Homo sapiens: one gene and its partners. The protein of the gene in region 2 interacts with the protein of the main gene of each other region in a pairwise test. Each region holds a gene or a part of one and is shown on either strand. Other genes may lie near its edges.

The links. Proteins that work in one complex are often made in the same cells at the same time.
Region 1: the proteins of TRIM62 (region 2) and UBE2L6 interact in binary tests that used the Homo sapiens proteins (3 or more experiments, as listed by UniProt).
Region 3: the proteins of TRIM62 (region 2) and UBXN7 interact in binary tests that used the Homo sapiens proteins (3 or more experiments, as listed by UniProt).

The regions. Positions count from the first base shown.
Region 1 is NC_000011.10:57,564,666-57,572,417, forward strand, and holds the start of UBE2L6 (ubiquitin/ISG15-conjugating enzyme E2 L6), read right to left. Parts: upstream 3,008-7,752; 5' UTR 2,947-3,007; coding exon 2,920-2,946; intron 1-2,919. UniProt on the Homo sapiens protein: Catalyzes the covalent attachment of ubiquitin or ISG15 to other proteins. Functions in the E6/E6-AP-induced ubiquitination of p53/TP53. Promotes ubiquitination and subsequent proteasomal degradation of FLT3.
Region 2 is NC_000001.11:33,158,044-33,165,069, reverse strand, and holds part of TRIM62 (E3 ubiquitin-protein ligase TRIM62), read left to right. Parts: exon of another isoform or gene 1-4,104; coding exon of another isoform or gene 4,105-4,218; intron 4,219-5,125; coding exon 5,126-5,382; intron 5,383-6,701; coding exon 6,702-6,817; intron 6,818-7,026. UniProt on the Homo sapiens protein: E3 ubiquitin ligase that plays a role in antifungal immunity by mediating 'Lys-27'-linked ubiquitination of CARD9 downstream of C-type lectin receptors; leading to CARD9 activation, followed by activation of NF-kappa-B and MAP kinase p38 pathways.
Region 3 is NC_000003.12:196,429,421-196,436,528, reverse strand, and holds the start of UBXN7 (UBX domain-containing protein 7), read left to right. Parts: upstream 1-4,101; 5' UTR 4,102-4,129; coding exon 4,130-4,202; exon of another isoform or gene 4,203-4,327; intron 4,328-5,087; exon of another isoform or gene 5,088-5,144; intron 5,145-7,108. UniProt on the Homo sapiens protein: Ubiquitin-binding adapter that links a subset of NEDD8-associated cullin ring ligases (CRLs) to the segregase VCP/p97, to regulate turnover of their ubiquitination substrates.

The DNA of each region.
Region 1 (7,752 bases), on a different chromosome or scaffold from region 2:
GGTGGCGGGTGCCTGTAACCCCAGCTACTCGGGAGGCTGAGGTAAGAGAATCACTTGAACCCACGAGGCGGAGGTTGCAGTGAGCTGAGATCGTGCCATTGCACTCCAGCCTGGGCAACAAGAGCGAAACTCCGTCTCAAAAAAAAAAAGAAAGAAAAACACAGATTAGTATAACACTGTATTTATGGTATATACACTACTCATATCTTAAGTAGAAAGAGGAAAAGATGACCAATTAAATATAATAACTACAACAATTTTTCAAGAGGTAGACAGTACAATAAGAAAGAAATAGAAATGGCCGGGCACAGTGGCTCATGTAATCCCAGCACTTTGGGAGGCTGAGGTGGGTGGATCACCTGAGGTCAGGAGTTCGAGACTAGCCTGACCAACATGGAGAAACCCCGTCTCTACTAAAAATACAAAATTAGCCAGGCGTGATGGTGCCTGCCTGTAATCCCAGCTACTCAGGAGGCTGAGGCAGGAGAATCACTTGAGCCTGGGAGGCGGAGGTTGCGGTGAGCTGAGATGGCACCATTGCACTCCAGCCTGGGCAACAAGAGTGAAACTCCATCTTAAGGAAGGAAGGAAGGAAAGAAAGGGAGAGAGAAAGAAAGAAGGAAAGAAATAGAAACAACAAAAAGTTAGTAAGCGGAAAGACGAAGTTAAAGTATACAGTTTGTATTAGTTGTTTTTTTTTTTTTTTTTTTTTTTTTTGAGACAATGTCTCACTCTGTCACCCAGATTGGAGTCCAGTGGCACAATCACAGCTCACTGCAGCCTCAACCTCCTGGGCTCAGGTGATCTTGCTACCTCAGCCTCCCAAGTAGCTAGGACTACAGCAGTGTGCTACCATGCCCGGCTAATTTTGGTACTTTTTGTAGAGATGGGGTTTGGCTGTGTTACCCAGGCTGGTCTCGAACTCCTAGGCTCAAGCAGTCCGCGAACCTCAGCCTCCCAAAGTGCTGATATTACAGGAGTGGGACACCACGCCTGGCCTTCATTAGTTTTCATTTTGCTTGTTTGTTTATGTAATCAGTGTTAACTTGTCATCAGTTTAAAATAACAGGTTATAAGATATTATTTACAAACCTTGTAGTAACCTCAAATCTAAAAACATACAATGGATACATAACAGTTATGTGACCCAAAATGTCAGTAGTGATGAGGTTGAGAAACTGAAGCTCTCCAAACCCAGTCCACAAGTGGGGAGGGGTCCTTTAACACTGTGGACCATTTGAACTTTCTCTGCCTTACCCCCACCCCCAACATATAATATAAACACATCCCATGCCCCCCTCCTATCCCTCAGCCTATGTTCTATTTCTGTTCAACCAATAAGCTGCTTCTGGTGCCTTCCACCCAGGGTCAATGGCCCTTCATTTATCTTTACCCCAAACTAGAAGCATCTGCACTTGTAAGAGTTTCTCTATCATCTGTGACTCTTTGGCAAGAACAAAGCCCAGGGCTGACCGGAGAAGATCTGGAATAGACATTTTCCAGGTCTTGGAAAGATAAAGACACTTGAACTTTATCTGTTTAGGATGAGTTCTGCCAGAACTTTCCCAAAGCCTGAGGAAGTTGAAACCCAACCTAAAACACACAGTTCTTTCCTACTGCCTACTAGGAAATCACCTGACTCAGAGGAACAGAAAATGAAAGTAGAAAGGCCATTAAGAGAGCCTGCAGGCTGGAGGCCTGTGGACCTGGTTTCATATTCCAGTCCCATTGCTCCTTACTGAAAGACTCTGGACAAGCAAGTTATTTCCTCTGTGCCTCAATTTCCTCATTTGTAAAATGCGGGTATATATTACTTATCTCACAGAACTGCTGTGCGAATTAGATGAAATAACCATGTAAACCGTTTGGCATGTAATGGTTCCAATGCAATAAATTCTGGCTCCCATCTCTCTTCCACTTGGCTGGAAAGACCCTCTGCCTCATTTTGCTGCCAACCTCCAGATTTAGTATCTAGGCCAAGCCTGCTCTGGGCATCCCAGTCTGAGGCCATTTTCTTCTCAGAGGCTGAGGGTAGCAGGCACCCTCTTCCTAGAGCCTGCCCCTCCACCCTGCAGACTGGAAGGGGCACTTCTGAAAGACTTGGGGTGCCAGACTCACTTCACCAGGATCACCTTCCTCCCTAATCCATCTCCAAACACCCTGGGTTTTCCCACCTTCTGGAGGAAACTGCCCCCTCCCCATCCTTCCAGATCTTATTTCAAATTGTGTCCCTGATAGGAACAAAATTCAACAAGGGCCGGATTTGTGTTCATCTCTGCCCGCCCCCCCCCCCCTCCTAGAACAGGGCCAGCACATGTAGGCATTCAACACTTGTAGAACTCACGAACGCAAGCCACCTACTCCAGGAGGCCTTCCAGGTCCACCTCCGCATCTTTTCCTCCAGAGAATACTCAGGGAACTTTGTCCCAAATTCTAATCAGCATTCCGTGTTTCTCAGGACTCTAGTAATACAGGCATCAAATTATGGGATGGGCTATGGGCTTATTCCAAGGCAAGGACTTCATCCTGGTCATCTGTGTTCATAACCCACCACCAGCAGTAGCAGAATGCCTGGCACCAAGATGCCAAGGACTTTTCCTGCACTGGAGATGCACCCAGTTGTTATCACAAGTTTCAGGCAGGAAAAGCGAAATTGAAACCAGTTTTGGGGGAGCCGGCTCATCTTCACCACGCGAACGGCTCAAGCAGAGGCCTCCAAACCCCCAAAACCCCAGCTCTGGCCACTCTTGCAGGCCAGTCCTCCTCTGAGTAGAGGGCGGGGAGGACAGGGATTCAGCCAGCCCTGGTGCCCAGACAAATAAATAAATGTGCTCGGAGAGCCGCGGAGGGGATGGAGGGAGGAGGGAATGCGGGAGGCGAGGGGAGCCAAGAGAAAGGGGTCATCCTATACGCGGTTACCTTCACCACTCGCATGCTCGCCATCATGTCGGGACCGAGTGTGTGGCACCCGTGGCCTCCAGCAGGACCGAGCTCCGACCCGCGACACAGCGCGCCCCGCCCCGCCCCGGGGACCCCACCCCCGGCAGCCCCGCCCACCCCTCCTCCAGCCGTCGCTGCGTGGGCCTCCCCGCACCCGCTCCGGCGAGGCCAGGAGGCCGTCGAAGGACGACCCGCCGGACAACCGCCCGATCCCCGCGCGGAAGGCTCGGACCCGGGACTCACGGTCTTTGTGCGGAGACGGGGGCGGGCCTCGGGGCGCACGGCTTTGCTGATCCCTGCCTCCCGCGGGGTGCGCCGTGCACCGGCGGCGAGCGCTCAGGGGCGCTGGGGGGCGCTCATACGGGTTCCAGTCTTCGCTCCGCCGGCGGCCGCACCGGGAGCTCTCCGGTCTTTGTCAGCCCCCTGCACGCCGCCCCAAATACACACTCGCCCTGAATAAATAAGGGATGCTCGCTGTACAGACGCAGCTCCGTGACAGTTCTCAGCGGCCTCCACTATCGGACTGCCGCCTTGAGCCCCTGCCCCAGCAAGCTGCCGGAGCCGCCGAGCCTGCCGCCTTCCCTCCATGGGCCCAGCGCTCCATCTCCGAAACTGCGTGGGGGATGGCGTAGACCTGTGCCCTCCGAGCACCGCTCCCCGGCAGTCGGGGATCCTTTGTGCTGCCCGGCGTTCGGCGCGGGCTGCAACGTTTCTCCCCGTGGCTTGGGGCAGAGCACCGCAAGGAGGCGCTGTTGGACCCTTTCTCTTTTGCTTTGGGGGTTCGGTCTACCATCATTCAGTCCTTTACTAGGTTTAGTATTTACTAAGTGCCTACTGTATGCTGGTTTGGGAAACAGTTGGTGGGGGAAGCCCCAAGAAGGACTCAGGAGCCTCCTTTCCAAGAGAGAGTCTGCTTCCCCTCCCTTACTTTACTACTGGTCCATTACAAGCTGTGGGCCTAATGTGTGCCCCCATGCACAGCTGGAGTCCCCAACCCTCTGTGCAAGGACAGAGTACTTGCAGCCCCTGAGCACCAAGCAGCATCTGGGGAAGATGAGACTTGTTGGGAGGGCCGATCCCCTCCTTCTCACCCTTCCCTACCCCCGTTTAGTCCAGACGAGAAAGGAAATCAGTATATTTTGAGCACCAGTTTGTGATCTCAGTACCTCACAGTTTTTTTGTTTCTTGTTTTTCTGACAGAGTTTCACTGTCGCCCTGACTGGAGTTCAGTGGCGATATCGGCTCACTGCAACCTCCGCCTCCCGGTTCAAGCTGTTCTCGTGCCTCAGCCTCCTGAGTAGCTGAGATTTACAGGCGCGCGCCACCACGACCGGCTCATTTTTGTATTTTTAGTAGAGTCAGGGTCTCGAGCTCCTGGTTTCAAGTAATCCACCCGCCTCGGCCTCCCAAAGTGTTGGAATTACAGGCGTGAGCCACCGTAATGTTTTTATCCAAGTATTTTGAAACCAAATGACTTCTCTGCTCAGATTTTGCAGAACGATTAATTGTTTCATTCAATTCAATGAACTTTAACAGCATTTTCTATATGCCCGAAATGAATAGGACACTCCGTAATCCCTTAACAGGGGTAGAGATGAGGGAACAAAGACATTCGAACCTGCCTGTGATCAATAGTCTCAGTCAACAAGCGCCTACTACTGAGTGGCAGGCATTGCCAATAGGAAACACCAGGATGAGAAAGGGGAGTCCCTGCTCCTGAGGAGTTAGTTCCCAGACTACTGGGACAGAGGGAGAGAATGCAGCCCCTGATTTTTAATGATAATGCTATAGAGAATCACCTGGTACTCTGGGAGTATGAGGAGGGTCACTTTATCCCTCTTCAGGGAGGGGCAGAGGTTTCCCGGAAGAGAGAAAAATCCAAGTGTATTGTGAAACATGATGAGTCAGCGAGAAGTAAGAGCGTGGGATGAAGATGTTCTAACAAGAGGGAACAGCATGAGCAAACGGGGCAGTGTCTATGGAAACTGGAGCAAAAGCCTCTGTCCACGTATCGTAGCTCTCCTTTTCTTTTCTTACAGGAACGCTGCATCCCGAGGTGAATTAACAGTCATGGATATAGCTGGGTCCTAAGTCCCCACACAGTGGGGCAGCCCACTGGTGTGCCTTTCATGTCCTTTCACAATGCAGACCTTTGTGTGTCAGAACAAGCCCCAGGGAGACCTGGGTTCTAGTTCCACATCTGCCCCCATGTGCAGTTATGGCCTTGGGTGGTCGGCGGAAACTCCTATCTGCTTGCCAGGACCATTGTGAGGCTAAGCTGAGGGAAGTGGAGGAACTTAGAATATTGTAAGTCGCCGGGCGCAGTGGCTCACGCGTGTAATCCCAGCACTTTGGGAGGCCGAGGCAGGCGGATCACCTGAGATCAGGAGTTCGAGACCAGCCTGACCAATATGGTGAAACCTCGTCTCTACTAAAAATACAAAAATTAGCCGGGCATGGTGGTGGGTGCCTGTAATCTCAGCTAGTCAGGAGGCTGAGGCAGGAGAATCGCTTGAACCCAGGAGGCAGAGGTTGCAGTGAGCCAAGATCACGCCATTGCACTCCAGCCTGGGGGACAGAGCAAGACTCCGCTCAAAGAAAAAAAGAAAAGAAAATTCTAAGTCCGAGGCCTGGCATGGTGGCTCATGCCTATAATCCCAGCACTCTGGGAGGCCAAGGCAGGCGGATTACCTGAGGTCAGGAGTTCGAGACCAGCCTGGCTAACATGGCGATACCTCGTCTCTACTAAAAACACAAAAATTAGCCAGGTGTAATGGCGTGCGCCTGTAATCCCAGCTACTGGGGAGGCTGAGGCAGGAGAATCACTTGAACCTGGGAGGCAGAGGTTGCAGTGAGCCGAGACCGGGCCATTGCACTCCAGCCTGGGCGACAAGAGCGAAACTCTGTCTCAAAAAGCAAAACAAGAAAATTGTAATTCCAGGATATAAACAATCAGGTTTGAATCCCAGCTCCACTATTTTTGGCTAAATAACCTTGGGCACATTACTTAACCTGTCTGTGCCTCCATTTCCTCATCTGTTAAATGGAGCTCATAACAGTGGATGTGAGAAACAATGAGTTGATATTTGCAAAGAACTTAACTTTGAATGGTGGACAATAAGTGACAGTTATGATAATGATAACATAATAAATATTAAAATGATGTCAGGTGCCTGCCTCAGAGTGAATGTACCAGGCTGTAGGAACAGATGCCTGAGCTTGCTCCCTTAGAACAACAGCAACACTATTTTCTCCAGTAGGAGACCCTGTTTTACTTCTCCCTGATCTGGTCACTGGCATTTATTCATCCATCTACAAAATTTATTGAGCACCTACTTATACAAGGCCCTGTATGGGGTACTCGATGGGATTCAGGCATTGATTGGTTAGGCTGGCTCGTCTTCACCATTGAGAGGAAGAGACACACATCTGTGTGATGACAAAAGGTGGTAGGAGAAAGGCCTCTTAAGTGACGTGCACATATGAGGTATGTCTCTTCCAAGACTGAGCTCTGCCAGCTGTAAGGCTTGCCAGTCTCTTATGAGGATAAAATGAGATGGTGTATGTGAGCAGACACCTTGTAGGTGTGAAAGTACGTTATCTATTTATAATGCCTCTAGAGTTCTGGGCAAGAGGTTCAGATTTTTCAAATGTCTCCAAGAACCTTCAGTGCATCTTCAAAGGAAGAACTTGGATCAGGAAGGATCAGTTGATTTCTTTCCATGCCCATTCCTTGGGCTTGTTCCTATTTGGAGTAGGGACGGTTAATCTCAGAACTACCCCAGCTCTCCCCATCTTCCTAGAGCTTAAAGAAGTTCCTGGGCCAGGTGCGGTGGCTCGTGCCTATAATCCCAGCACTTTGGGAGGCCAAGGCAGGCAGATCATCTGAGGTGGGGAGTTCGAGACCAGCCTGACCAATATGGAGAAACCCCTGTCTCTACTAAAAATACAAAATTAGCCAGGTGTGGTGGTGCATGCATGTGATCCCAGCTACTCGGGAGGCTGAGGCAGGAGAATCACTTGAACCTGGGAGGTGGAGGTTGCAGTGAGCTGAGATCGAGCCATTGCACTCCAGCCTGGGCAACAAGAGCAGGCAAAAAAAAAGAAGAAGTTCCCAGGAACCAGAGACAGAAGAGAATTTCCTGCTTCTTTTGATCCTCGTGCTTACCCCACACCCCCCCTTCCTCTGGGTTAGTCTCACACACACACACACACACACACCCCTCCTGTACCATGAGCCCTGCCCTTGTGGTTGAGGTGGAGGGATGGATAGAGGCAATCAAGGAGTCAGGGAGTCCCAGGAGGGGAGCTGGGGGTATTCTTGCCACAAGAGCAGGAAGGTGGCCTGATGAGTGAAGGACCTGCTTCCTCAGTGGGGCTCAACCACTCACTGACTTCCTTGTTGTGGGACTTTGGACATGAGAAGTAACAGTTAACAACAGATAACAACAATAACTAATGTATATTGGATGTGCAAGGATGTATCAGCAGCTTGGGCTGCCATCACAAAATACCACAGGCCAAATGGCTTTAACAACAGGTTTTATTTTCTCACAGTTCTGGAGGCTGGAAGTCCAAGATTAAGATTCTAACTGATTTGATTTCTGATGAGGGCTCTCTTCCCAGCTTGTGGACGGCTGCCTTCTTGCTATGTCCTCACATGGCCTTTCCTCAGGTGCTTGTGCAGGCAATGTGGGTATTAGAGAAAGTGAGCTCTCCAGTGTCGCTTCTCACATGGACATGAATTCTGTCCGATCGGGGCCCCACCCTGATGACTTCATTTAATCTTAATTACTCTTTAGAGGCCCCATG
Region 2 (7,026 bases):
TTGTAGTCCCAGTCTCTTCAGAGGCCGAGGCAAGATGATGGCTTGAGCCCAGGAGTTTGAGACCAGCCTGGCCAATATAACGAGATGCCTTCTCTACAAAAAAAAAAAAAAAAATTGAATATAGCCAGGCGTAGTGGCACATGCCTGTAGTCCCAGCTACTCTGGAGACTGAGACAGATGGGAAGATTGCCTGAGCCCAGGAGTTTGAGGCTGCAGTAGGCCATGATCATGCCACTGCACTCCAGCCTGGGTGACAGAGTGATACCCTGTCTCTAAAATGAATGAATGAATGAATGAATGAATAAGCCCATTGCCTAGGAGTCAATCCTGAGCATGTCCCCTCGAAGCCCTCCAGAGGTGGCCCAGCCCTGGTATCATCTCCCCTTAAGCTCAGGCCATGGGATACAGACTCTGAAAGGTAGGGCCAAACTCTGCAGTCTCTGGCTACCGTGGTTTGGGAAACAAACAAACAAACAAACAAACAGACTTTTCCACTGACTTGAGAAGGACATGGGTTCTGATCCCACCACTAACTCACTGTGTGACTTTGGGTAAATTGCATGCTTTCCTGGGTCCCCAGCCTTCCCATCTGTCCAGTGGGGACTGCCAGGCTCAGTCCAGCACTCTGGGACTGGAAGGTGCCGGGTGGAGTCCCCACTATACAGAGTGACTCTGTGTCGTGAGGCCTGGGGTGATTTCAGGCTGACCCCGCTCTGTCAGCAGGAGCTGCGGCAGAGCCTTAGGAATGCGCTGGGCCTCTGGAGGTCATCCTGGGGCCTGAAGACACCATTGGAAACCCAGATCTATGCCCCAGCTTGGCCACCAACCCACTGTGGGGTCTCAGGAAGGTCATGACAAACAATTCTTCACAGAACATTCCAGAGTGCCTCTGGGCAGGACCCTCGGGGGCAACAGATGATAAACAGTCACAGGATGCTGGCCTCATTGCTTCTTGCAGCCTCAGTTTCCCCAACTGTCTGGTGATTCTGTACCTCTTGGATGATGAGAAGCAAATGGAAGCCTCTCTCTGTATGAGAGCGGAGTATTATGGGCTGTTCCTTCTCCCCAGCAGCACTCTCTTCTCTCCACATCCCACACCCTCTTTGTTTTTCTCCACTGACCTCTTCCTCCCCCGCTTTCCTGTCCATCTGTCTGCCTCTGGGGGGTCCTGTGGGGCCACATCCCCCTCGAGTTCCCCCAGCCCCACTTCCTGTCTGGACTGGGGTGTTTATACAAGAAATGCCTATGGATGCTTTGGAGGTCATATTTCACCTGGTGCCTGACTCGGCTTTCCTGCTGCGCCTGCCCCTCCAATGGCCTGGCCTGAGGGCCTGTCTGATCTCCCTCCTCAGGCCCTCTGTTTTCCTTGGTCGGCGCCCTGGCGGGGTGATGCATTCTTGGCAGGGTGTTTTTCTGAAAGGGCCCCAGCACCTCCAGGCCCTAGGGTGTTCCAAGGGATGTGGTGGGTTGGGGTGGGGGCTGTTTCCCCAGCCACAGAGCTGAAAGGAGGGGGTTGGGGAAAGGGTGACTCTGCCCTGGAAAGAACTAGAATAAATGGGGTGCACCAGTTGAGCAGAACTTTTCTCTGTGCTGAGAATTGTGTTCCTCTTCATTATCCTGCCAACCTCACAGAATGTCACCTCCACGAGAGCAGGATTCCCTAAAACCTAGCACAGTGTCTGGCACACAATAAGTAGTTATAAAAAAAGTGATTGAAAGGAAAAAAAAATCGGCCAGGCACAGTGGCTCACGCCTGTAATCCTAGCACTTTGGGAGGCTGAGGCGGGCGGATCACCTGAGGTCAGGAGTTCAAGACCAGCCTGGCCAATATGGTGAAACCCCGTCTCTACTAAAAATACAAAAACTAGCTGGGCATGGTGGTGGGTGCCTGTAATCCCAGCTACTCAAGAGGCTGAGGCAGGAGAATTGCTTGAACCCAGGAGGTGGAGGTTGTAGTGAGCCAATATCGAGCCACTGCACCCCAGCCTGGGCAACAAGAGTGAGACTCCATCTCAAAAAAATAAAAAACAACAAAAACAAAAACCAAAAAAACAGGAAAGAAAAAAAATCGTCCCAGGTAGGAACTGTTGTTATCTCAATCTTATCAGTGAGGCAACTGAGGCACAGAGAGGTTGAGGGACCAACCTGAAGTCCCACAGCTAGAAAATGGCAACTTGGGAGCTTACCATCCAGTCCTGTCAGAGCCCAGTGCATAGTGCAGCTGGGATGTCTCCTGGGGTGTCCTGCAAGAGCTATGGCTTTGTAGTCAGCAAGCCAGGTAGGTCAGTAGGACTCATCGGGAATGTACTTGGGGCTCCAGGGGTGGCTGTCACTCTGATGTTCCACTGCTGGCTGCCCTGTCCCTGCCTTCCCCCCTTTCCCTCCCATCCTCTCTCGTCCTTGAGACATTGAAACCCCAGCCTGGAAAGAAGCTGGAGCCTGCACCCAGCTCTACGGAGCAATCTCAGACAAGACTCTTCCCTCCTTCACCCCTCAAGCAACTCCTGATTGCCAGCCTTGTACCAGGCTCTGGGATGGGCACAGGGGTGCAGAGCCGAGGGAGATGTCATTCCTACCCAGCAGGGGCCCACTTACTAGCCAGGGAGACAGAAAATGTGGGACAATGTATTAAGACTGTTGACAAAAGGCTCTGGGAACATCCAAGTGCCTGAAAGAGAGGAAAGTTATCTCTGAAGAGGTCACTTTCAAGCTAGGTCTTGCAGGATGAGTAGGAGTTTGCCAGTTGAATACAGGGTTTGGGTAGGGTCATTCTAGGCAGGTGGAGTTGCAATGCAGTGGCGCTAGGGAGGTAAGCTAGGGTTAAATTGAGAAGGTCCTTGAATGCCAGACTAAAGAGTTCAGCATTTTACTATGTGTCAAGGAGCTAAAGAAGGTTCCTAAACTCAGGATCATCTGTGATTCAGTTGGCACTTTAGAAGGATCACTCTGACAGTGAGTTTGCTGGCAAAGACAAGAGTTGACTTGTAGACCAAGTGAGTTGGAAAGACCTGTGGGACCCCAGAGGGATGTGTTGGGGAGACTGTTGGAAAAATGGGTGTGGCACTCAGGAGACAGGCAAGGCCATCTATATGGACTTGGGAACCATCCTTAAAGCAGTTCAAGTTGAAAATGGGGGCAGGTGTTCAGGGTGAGGATGGAAGGCGCTGACCTGGATGAGCCCCGAGGAACATGGGAGGCAGAGAGGCAGCAGTCACAGAGATGGGAGGCAAAGCAGAACTTTCAACTAGGAGAGGGTGGCGAGTGGGCTAAGTGCTGCAGAGTGGTCTAGGAGGAGCCAGAGGAGTAGCTGCGGAGTCTGGGCGCCTGTGGAGGGCAGCTCCAGGTGGTGCAGGGACGACGGACCCCATCTTCCCCATCAGCAACATGCCGCTGCAGAGGCCTCCACCCTCCCCGGGTGAGGGGGCTCAGGAAGGCCACGGCAGCCTGGCCGTGCATCCCCAGACTCTCGTCCGCCCCCCTTTGTCTGCCTGGCGTTCTGGGTGGGCATGCGCAGCGAGGCTGGCCCACCGCCAGCAGTTCTTCCTGCAGGCCAGCAGCCGCGCGTCGGGGAGGGAACAGGCCCTAATTGAGCCTTTGTAGAGCCTCCCACAGAGCCCTGGGCACTGAACACAGTGGGGTTTCTGACTCCATGAACTCCCAGCCAGAATCCCACAAAGTAAAATTGCAGAGGCAGGCCCCACATGCTGCTGCAGCCTGGCCGCACTTCTATAGCCCGTGTCGTCCTGACGTTAAGCCCTTCCTCATGCGGCTCCCTCTGCCTGTTCCCCTGACCCCCAACTGACATCCTGCCCATCCCTCAGGCCCCGGCTCAGAACCCGTCTCTCAATGAAGACTTCCGGGAAACGCTTATTAGAATTGCAGTCTTCAATAACCAGGCTCTTTCTCTGCGCCTTGGAGTGCGCACAACAACACCCCCTCATTTCATCTTCACCACAATCCTACAATGCAGTTTTTGTTACTCCTTTCACAGATAAGAAAACTAAGGTTCACAGCTCTTAGGCAACTGACGTTGCCATAGCTAGAGACCCAGAGCTAGAGTCCTTACGCAGACTGTCAGGCACCAAACCTGTGCCCTTCACTACTTCACCCTTCCTGAGCCTCACAGTGCCCTTGGGGGCAGAGAAAACCATGAAAGTTCATGCTTACCTCCCTGATCCTGTCTATAAACACCAGTCCTTGCTCCTTAGCCAGAGGGTCCTAGAGGTAACAGGAGACAGCGAGTAACCACCAAGGTTTTCTCAATACGTTGCAATTTACAAAGCTCTTTGATGTCTGTGATCTTGTCATCTTTCCTTGAGCCCCCTGAATGAGCCCCATGAATGATTTTTTTAAAATAAAGACTTCAGCCGGGCACGATGGCTCACGCCTGTAATCCCAGCACTTTGGGAGGCCAAGGTGGGCAGATCACCTAACGTCAGGTGTTTGAGACCAGCCTGGCCAACATGGTGAAACCCCATCTCTACTAAAAATACAAAAATTATCCGGGCATAGTGGCGGGCTCCTGTAATCCCAGCTACTAGGGAGGCTGAGGCTGGAGAATCGCCTGAACCCAGGAGGTGGAGGTTGCAATGATCCGAGATCGTGCCATCACACTCCAGCCTGGGTGACAGGAGCAAAACTCCATCTCAAAAAACTAATAATAATAAAAGCAAAAAAAATAAAGACTTCACTATGTCCTTGAGAGAACATCTTCACCCTGTCCCCTAGCCCTCACTCCAGCTCCCTCATCCCTCCTACCCCCAAGCCAGAAACCTGGGCATTATCCCCAGCTCCTTTCTCTTCTGTACCCCTCTAGCCAACACAGCAGGGTCAAAGAGGCTGCCCTCTAGATGTTTCTCAAACCGTGTTCCTCACCATTGCTGCTGCTCCTCTAGTTCAGGCCTCATTTTCTCACCTGGGCCATTTCATTAGCTATTTAATGGACCACATAGAACATGCCCATCCTTTCCTACCACCATGCTTTTGCATGTGACATTTCCCCCACCACGCGTGCCCTTTCCCACCCTTTCCTCTCTGTGTGTCAAGGCTCTCGATTTCCTCCTCTCACCCAGAGATCACCCCATCTGCTCCCCCAGCCATAACCCCTGACGACTGTCCCCCACAGTCTTCCACCAAGAGCCTGCGGACCACTATCGGCGAGGCCTTCGAGCGGCTGCACCGGCTGCTGCGTGAACGCCAGAAGGCCATGCTAGAGGAGCTGGAGGCGGACACGGCCCGCACGCTGACCGACATCGAGCAGAAAGTCCAGCGCTACAGCCAGCAGCTGCGCAAGGTCCAGGAGGGAGCCCAGATCCTGCAGGAGCGGCTGGCTGAAACCGACCGGCACACCTTCCTGGCTGGGGTGGCCTCACTGTCCGAGCGGTAAGTGCCACCCGCCGGGGCCCTCCCCGGCTGACCATCCCCTCCTCGACCCATGCTGGGCAGTGGGAGTGGAGGCAGATGGGATCCTTAGCAGAGAATTCTTTCATTCAAATCTTCATCAAACATTTACGGGACATCTGCTATGGGTAGGAGCATGAAGCCTTGAGTATGAAGCCAGTGAGGCTTGAACTAGAGGAGCAGCAGCAATGGTGAGGAACACAGTTTGAAAACCATCTAGAGGGCAGCCACTTTGACCCTGCTGTCTTGGCTCTAGGGGTGCAGGAGAGAAAGGATCTGGGAATAAAGACTTCATATATTTACATTATTATATATGTAATATATTCTGTATACATTATAGATAGTAGGTAGCATTTAATAGTGTTTACAATCATAATATAAATATATTACATATTATTTTATTTATGATAATGTTGGCATTACGTGTTACTATATAAAGGCTTTATATTACTGTAACCCTCTCAGTCCCTTTGAAAGTAGTTACCACTGTCATCATCATTTCATGCATGTAGAAACTGAGGCTCCTGCTGGGCACGGTGGCTCACACCTGTAATCCCAGCACTTTGGGAGGCCGAGGCAGGTGGATTACCTGAGGTCAGGAGTTCAGGACCAGCCTGACTAACATGGTGAAACCCCGTCTCTACTAAAAAAAAATACAAAAATTAGCCGGGCGTGGTGGCAGGCACCTGTAGTCCCAGCTATTCAGGAGGCTGAGGCAGGAGAATTGCTTGAACCCAGGAGGCAGAGGTTGCAGTGAGCTGAGATCGCGCCATTGCACTTCAGCCTGGGCAATAAGAGCGAAACTCTGTCTCAAAAAAAAAAAGAAAAAAAAGAAAAAAACTGAGGCTCTGAAAAGCTACATCAGTTGGCCAAGGCCCCCCATCTGGTAACTGGTAAGCCAGGATTCAAGCCTAGGTCTCTGTGACCCCAAATCTTCCCTTAGTAGTAATAACACTTAGTCATTGGTTTGTTGGTGATCAATACTGATTGCTAAGATCATGAATTTGGCATTGACCGTGACCGAGCACTGTGCTGAGCATCTGTATATGTTATGCCATGTAATTCTCACAAAAAGCCTAGAAGGCTGATGCTAGCATAGCACCCATTTTAAAGATGAGAAGACTGAGGGAATGGTTAGAGAGGCCAGAAGCAGCACAAGCAGGCACTTGAATCTGAGTCCCACAGACTTCTCACTCATGACCACATCCTATGCCAGCTGCCCTGAAGGTGGCTGCGGGGCCCCTGGCATTGGGGCAGGAATCCAGTCCCTGGTGCAGCCCCCTTTCCTGCTCTCCTTCCAGGCTCAAGGGAAAAATCCATGAGACCAACCTCACATATGAAGACTTCCCGACCTCCAAGTACACAGGCCCCCTGCAGTACACCATCTGGAAGTCCCTGTTCCAGGACATCCACCCAGGTAAGGCATGGGTTATCATGGTCCAGAGCTAGGTGGGGCATGTCCCAGCACAGCCCAGCCCCCTGTCCTAAACACAGCATGGGGCAGTTGGGGTGAATGAGCAGAGTGCCTTGCTGAGCACCTAGTGTGTTCCAGGACCTGTCCTGGGCACCTGCACAATCACTCAGCTCAGTGGACCTTCATAACACCCCAGGAGATGGCTGGGCGTG
Region 3 (7,108 bases), on a different chromosome or scaffold from region 2:
GAGAACCAGCTTTTGGTTTTATGAATCCTCTCTTCTGTATTTTGTATTCTATTTTGTCAATTTCTGCTCTTTAGCATTTTTTCTTCACATTTTTCCTTGTCTGCTGAGTTGTTGTTCCTTTATTAACTTCTTGATGAAATGCTGAGCTACTTATTTTCCAGTCTTCTTCTCTAATATAACCAGTTAAGCTTATATATTCTCCTTTAGCTTCTGTTAAAACTCCATCAGTTTCGGGCCAGGCTCTGTGGCTCACCCTGTAATCCCAGCACTTTGGGAGGCTGAGACAGGTGGATCACTTGATGTCAGGAGTTCAAGACCAGCCTGACCAACATGGTGAAACCTTGTCTCTACTAAAAATACAAAAATTAGCTGGGCATGGTGGCCTGCTCCTGTAATCCCAGCTACTTGGGAGGCTGAGGCAGGAGAATCGCTTGAACCCAGGAGGCAGAGGCTGCAGTGAGCCAAGATCCTGCCACTGCACTCCAGCCTGGGCGACAGAGAGAGACCCTGTCTCAAAAAACAAAACAAGATGAAACAAAAAAGACCCAAACAAACCAAAAAGCTCCTCAAGTTTTGGAATGTATTTCCATGACCATTCCATTTTACATTTGTGTCCATCAATTTCCTCTTTTCCATCCTGCTCTCTGCCCCGGGGCTGCCTGTGGGAACTACAAGGGGCTTCTTGCTGTGCCCTCTGTCTTCCATTTGGGTTCAGCCATTGGGGATTCCTGGCAGGAGACAGAAGAGGAGATCGAGGTCAGGGTATCTATGTCCCTGAGCTCCTCTCTGAGATTGCCTCAAGCTGCTTATTTATGTCCCTTGACAGAAGGTCATTGCTTCTTGCATGGTGGTTTGCTCTGCAAAAAAATCTCACTTGGGATTTCTCTAACTTCTCTCTGTTCTCATCTCTTTGGACGTATGGGTTGTGACAGTTCTACTGTTACTAGTATGAGATCCTCCACTGTTCCTTGTGATTTCCACATATCTTACCCAGGCTGGAGTGCAGTGGTGTCATCATGGCTCACTGCAGCCTCGACCACCTGGGCCCAAGTGATCCTCCCGCCTCAGCCTCCAGAGTAGGTGGGACTACAAGCTTGCACCACCGCACCTGGCTAATTAAACTTTTTTTTTCTTTTTTCAGAGATAGGGTCTCCCTATGTTGCCTAGGCTGGTCTCAAGCTCCTGGGCTCAAGTGATCCTCCTGTCTTGGCCTCCCAAAGTGCTGGGATTACAGGCATGAGCCACGACACCCATCCTTCATATTCATATTCTTTTTTTTTTTTTTTTTTTTTTTTTTTGAGACGGAGTCTCACTCTGTTGCCCAGGCTGGAGTGCAGTAGCTCATTCTTGGCTCACTGCAAACTTCACCTCCCGGGCTCAAGCGATTCTCCTGCTTCAGCCACACGAGTAGCTGGGATTACAGGCACGCACCATCACGCCCAGCTAATTTTGTATTTTTAGTAAAGATGGTGTTTCACCATGTTGGTCAGGCGGGTTTGGAGCTCCTGACCTCAGGTGATCCCCAGCCTCGGCCTCCCAAAGTGCTGGGATTACAGGTGTGAGCCACCGCAACTGGTCAGTCCTTCATATTCTTTAATAATCCAAAAAAGCTTTTCAAGGTTGTATTATTCATTACTTCTTTATTTATTTTTCCCAGTTCCCTGGTTATCCATGGAAACTGTCTCATTTTCTTCCCTTCTTTCCCCCCCTCCCCCCGACCATGGAATCTTTTTGGCCACCTGTCTAATTTTCTTTTATCTTATTTTTTAATTTCTAAAAAAATGCCTTCTGGAGTTGTGGATGCCACAGACTTTATCACCTTTTCCTGCACTGTTAATCAAAATCATATCATTAAATCTGAATTATAAGATTTTGGAAATAAACCTGATAAACCTGCAGAGCTCATTACTGGCCTCTCCATCTGATGGAGGTACAGTAATCACTGTGTTTAGTTTTTGTAGTTAATGGTGTTATACCATTTTACGTGGAGCTTGATTTTGCATGGCTGGCTAGTGACTCAGCCTTTAGGATGAAGGGAGACAGAGGTAACACTTTCTTGATTTGGCTTTCTTCCCTTGCCTGTTTTTGCACCTCTGCATCAAATGTGAAGGAATCAGCTGCCGAAATTTATGACTGATCCCTGCCCTTCCTCAGCCCATCTAGAGAACTGCAGCAACCTGGAAGGCAGTGCCAGGACCAATCTGTCATTTAACTTAAAATACATTTTTTTTTTTGAGACGGAGTCTTGCTCTGTCACCCAGGCTGGAGCACAGTGGCATGATCTCGGCTCACTGCAACCTCTGCCTCCCGGGTTCAAGTGATTCTCCTGCCTCAGCCTCCCAAGTAGCTGGGATTACAGGTGCCCGCGCCACCACAGCAGCTAATTTTTGTATTTTTAGTAGAGATGGGGTTTCGCCATGTTGACCAGGCTGGTCTGGAACTCCTGACCTCGGGCGATCCGCCCGCCTCGGCCTCCCAAAGTGCTGGGATTACTGGAGTCTGCTTTCTTTTACATCAATCATATCTTCTTGAAACTACAGCCCGACTGGGTGTGGTGGCTCACGCCTGTAATCCCAACACTTTGGGAGGCCGAGGCGGGTGGATCACTTGAGGTCAGTAGTTTGAGACTAGCCTGCTCAACATGGTGAAACCTCGTCTCTATTAAAAATACAAAAATTAGCCAGGCGTGGTGGCGTGTGCCTGTAATCCCAGCTACTTGGGAGGCTGAGGCAGGAGAATCGCTTGAACCCGGGAGGCGGAGCTTTCAGTAAACTGAGATTGCACCACTGCACTCCAGCCTGGGCGACAGAGCGAGACTCCCTGTCAAACAAAACAAAACAAAAAACTATACCCCTTGATTTGACATGGCTCTTTCTTAATTCTCCCCAATAGCATGTTTACTCTTAGGATGTGTCAATTCTTCAGACAGCTCATCCCATCTTTTATTGGGCCATTTTCCTATGAAGATGCAAAATATGTGGGTGGAGGTTGGAAGGTGGGAGGCTAAAACAAACGGAATCACTTGGAATCTCTTTTAACTTTATGGGCAAGGTGGGGGATTATTGGATTTGAGCGCACCCCACTCATGTAACTGTTTTGCAAAATACTTAAAATTATTCAAGGAACACACGAATATCTTTTTTTTTTTTTTTTTTTTGAGATGGATTCTTGATATATTTCCCAGTCTGGTCTCGAACTCCTTGCCTCAAGCGATTCTCCCACCTCGGCCTTCCAAAGTGCTGGGATTACAGTCATGAGCCACCGCGCCCGGCCAATAATGTTTGTTTAAAAATAAAAAGATAAATAAGAAACTCGAAGTAAGGTCCGCTTTGACCATCGTCCCGATCGTTCTCTTCTCTGGAGGTAACCGTTACCAGCGTTTTGAGCACACTTTTCCAGTCTCCTTTCTATATGTTTTCTTTCCTCTACTGCATATACAGAGTTTCTTTTTATACAAATGACGCCTCTTGGGGTCTCATTAAGACCCTAACGGGAGACGTGATGGCCAATTTATTTAAGGAAAGCAGACTAAACAATCGTTTATGAAAACCTACTGGGTGGCAACCCCGCGCTAAGTGCTTTCTTTGGCATGAAGGGTTCTGGTATTTCACTCGTCGCAATCGGTTAGCTAAGCCATTAGTTTAGAGGCTGGGGGGCGAGTACGGGGAGAGTCGCTTCAAAGCGAGGAGGTAGGGTTTGCATTTTGATGGGACCTGCAGGAAACCTAATAGAGTGCGGTACAACCGCAAAACAGAAAAATGCTGTCATCGGCAGTTGGCTCTGTCAATAAAGCTTGCGAAGCTGAAATGCGAAGAACTATCTGCCGAGACCGAAGCTTCCTTCGGAATCTAGGAATCGACACCGCGCCTGCGAGGCTAGCCTTGGAGCCCGGAGAGGAAGGCACCAGCAATGGCAAAAAGGATGCACTGAGCAGGCAGCAACCGAGCAGCCAACCCGAGAGCTGGGAGCGCGCGGGCCCGGTCGGAAAATGCGCCTGCGCAGACCGCTGGGGACGGGAGGGGCGGGGCTCGAGGGGCGGTCAATGCGCCTGCGCACACCGCACGGCGAAGTGGGGGAGGGCAGTCCGTGTGTGTCTGTGTTGTTGTTCGGCGGCGGCGGCGGCGGTAAGATGGCTGCCCACGGGGGCTCCGCGGCGTCCTCGGCGCTGAAGGGGTTAATTCAACAGTTCACCACCATTACCGGTAAGAGACGCGGTTACCGGAAGGTGGAGAGTGGGGTCCGGAGCGGGCAGCGGGTCTGCCCCGGGCTTCCCCTTACCTTCAGGCATTCCTCCTTCGGGCTTTACCCACAGCTGCCGTCCTCCCTCCTGAGGAAGAGGCGACGACGGCGTCGGGGTCTCCGGGTTCAGGCGGGAGACAGCCCCCCCCCGCTCCCGATACCCTCGTTCTCTGTCTCCTAGTAGCGTGGAGGGAGATCCCCCAACCCCCCGCCAGCCCAGACCTGGGAATGGGCCGAGTCCGTCCGCCCCCGCCGGCCCGGGGACCCGGGGGCGGGAGGAGTAGGGGGCCGCACCCGGGCCACCGCCCTCCTCCTCCTCCTTCATCATCTTCCCTTCTCTGTGCAGCCCTGCGGTGCGGTGCATCTCCTCACCTCCTTTTTTCCTTTCTTCCCCGGCCAGGTCATTCTGCCCCGGTCCCCGGCCTGCCCTTCCCCTTTCTGGGCCCCTCGGAGCCATCGCCGTGGCCCTGGCGGGTTCGGGCCCTCCCGCCTTCACGGCAAGGCCGGTGGGTTCGGCCGTGCCTTTACACTTCACGGGGGACAGGCCGCCAGAAGCGGGGGGTGCTGAGGAGGACCTCAGGGACTGAGGCTTTGAGGGAAGAATGAGGGGGAACCCCCAAGCTGAATAGGGGAGGCCTGGAAGAATCCAGGGTGGCGTTTCCCACCTCCCCATAATAAAATCATAAAGACGGAGACGATGGCGCCGGGGCCTCCTGCTGATAAGATAGGGATGGCGGCAGAAACTTCTTTGAGAGAAAATCTGTTTCTGGGTGTCGGTATCCCCGAAACCCTAGGCCTAGGTTCTCTCCCTTTGGACCCCTGCGAAGGACACACGCAGATCCTCTTACCGCCTGGAGGAAAGGCCCTAAAGCCATTCTATGAATTCTCTCTGTCTTGTTTCTCTCTGATGGTGCTGAACTTTTCTTGCATGAGTTATTAGAGGGCGGAGCAAATGATGAAGTTCTCTGTGGAGTGATTTGAGAGAAGAGTACTCCAATGTGCCTGAGTGTAATTTTGCCGTTCTAGTTTGTCGTTTTGGAAGGAGGTCAGAATGTTAGTTCCCTCTCAACGGATCTATACTTTATCTCGTAATTTGTTAGATGCGGAGAATGTTTCCACTGTTAATGTTCCTAGAGTTTAACGTGCAATATCTGGTTAAGTAAAATTTTATATTGTTTTAACTACTACAGGTTGTATACTAGTTACCGTTTTATATTAAAGCAAGTTTTATTTTTTTGCTTTGCAATGATAACGAGATATTTGACGCATTGTTATCTAGCTTGTGGGCATGGAACATCAGGTCAAAGTAAAGTAAAATTTGCAATAAAATTGGGGTGAGGAGTTGCATGATAACTTCTCTTAATATTTTTGAACTTTGTGATTGGATTATTGAAGATATAAAGGATTGGATTATTATATTAAATATGTAAAGGATTTCCTAATGTCTGACAAATCATTGCTATGGAGAAGATTATTGTGTATATAAGTTAGTGTTGCTGCATTATGCTTATATAGAAAAATCTTTGCAGTGAATCTGATAGAGAAGTGAATATCATTATTAATCCTTTAGATTTCCTAGAGATGGTTTATGATGCCACTTGGGCCTGGCGCGGTGTCTCACGCCTGTAATCCTAGCAGTTTGGGAGACGGAGGCTGGAGATTCACATGGGGCGAGGAGTTGCAGACCAGCCTGGGCAAAACATAGTGAGGCCCCATCTCTACAGAAATAAGAAAATGAGCTGGATGTAGTGGCACCGACATGTAGTCCCAGCTACTGGGGAGGCTGAGGTGGGAGGATTGCTTGAGCCTAGGAGTTCAAGGCTGCGGTGAGTAGATCATACCACTGCGCTCCATCCCTGGCAACAGAGCAAGATCATTTCTCAAAAAGAAAAAAAAAGCCACTTATTATTATTATTATTATTATTATTTTGAGACAGTCTCGCTGTGTTGCCCAGGTTGGAGTGCAGATCTCCCAGGCACGATCTTGGCTCACTGCAACCTCCACCTCCCGGGTTCAAGCGATTCTCCTGTCTCAGCCTCCCGAGTAGCTGGGACTACAAGCGCCTGTCACCAGGCCCGGCTAATTTTTGTATTTTTAGTAGAGGCGGGGTTTCATCATGTTGGCCTGGCTGGTCTTGAACTCCTGTCCTCAAATGATCCACTCACCTCAGCCTCCCAAAGTGCTAGGATTACAGGCGTGAGCCACCGCGCCTGGCCCTAAAAGCCACTTAATTAATTTTCAGTTTCTTATGCTAATTACTACTCTTCCCAAACTCTGATTGGTTTAACGCCACATTACTTCTTCTGTTGCAACATTTTTATTAGGTACACACAAAAACCGAAGTGTGGTGAGTTGAATTGACTCACTTAATTGCTTTAATTCTGTTTCTGTTCGTCTACGTAGCTTGATTGCTGGATCAAGTTGGAGTCCCTCAATCAGTAGACAGTGGTATCTGGAGATCTACAGAGCGAAAATACCTTTGAGTGTTCTTCAAATATTGTGAATTTCTATTGATAATTTTTGGGATTCTTTTTACAAGATAGTGATTAACCGTTAGAAACACATGATTGATTTCTTTTTGCCTTTTTTACATGTCTTAAAATTTTTTTGGGGTTCTCTCCACATACGTTTTAATCGTAGTGTTTATAATTAAAAGGTATTTTATATTTATTTTAGTGACCTTAATAGCTTATGCTCTGATTTCACAAAGGTTTTACTTGGAAGCTCAATATTCTTGTAAAAACAAATGCATCATCAAAAATGTGAGTCCTTACTTTTTAGGCAGGAGCAAAAAAAAGAAAAAGAAAAAATAAAAATAAATGTGAGTCTTATCTTTTTTTGGCATTTAGAAATAGAACGGAAAATTGA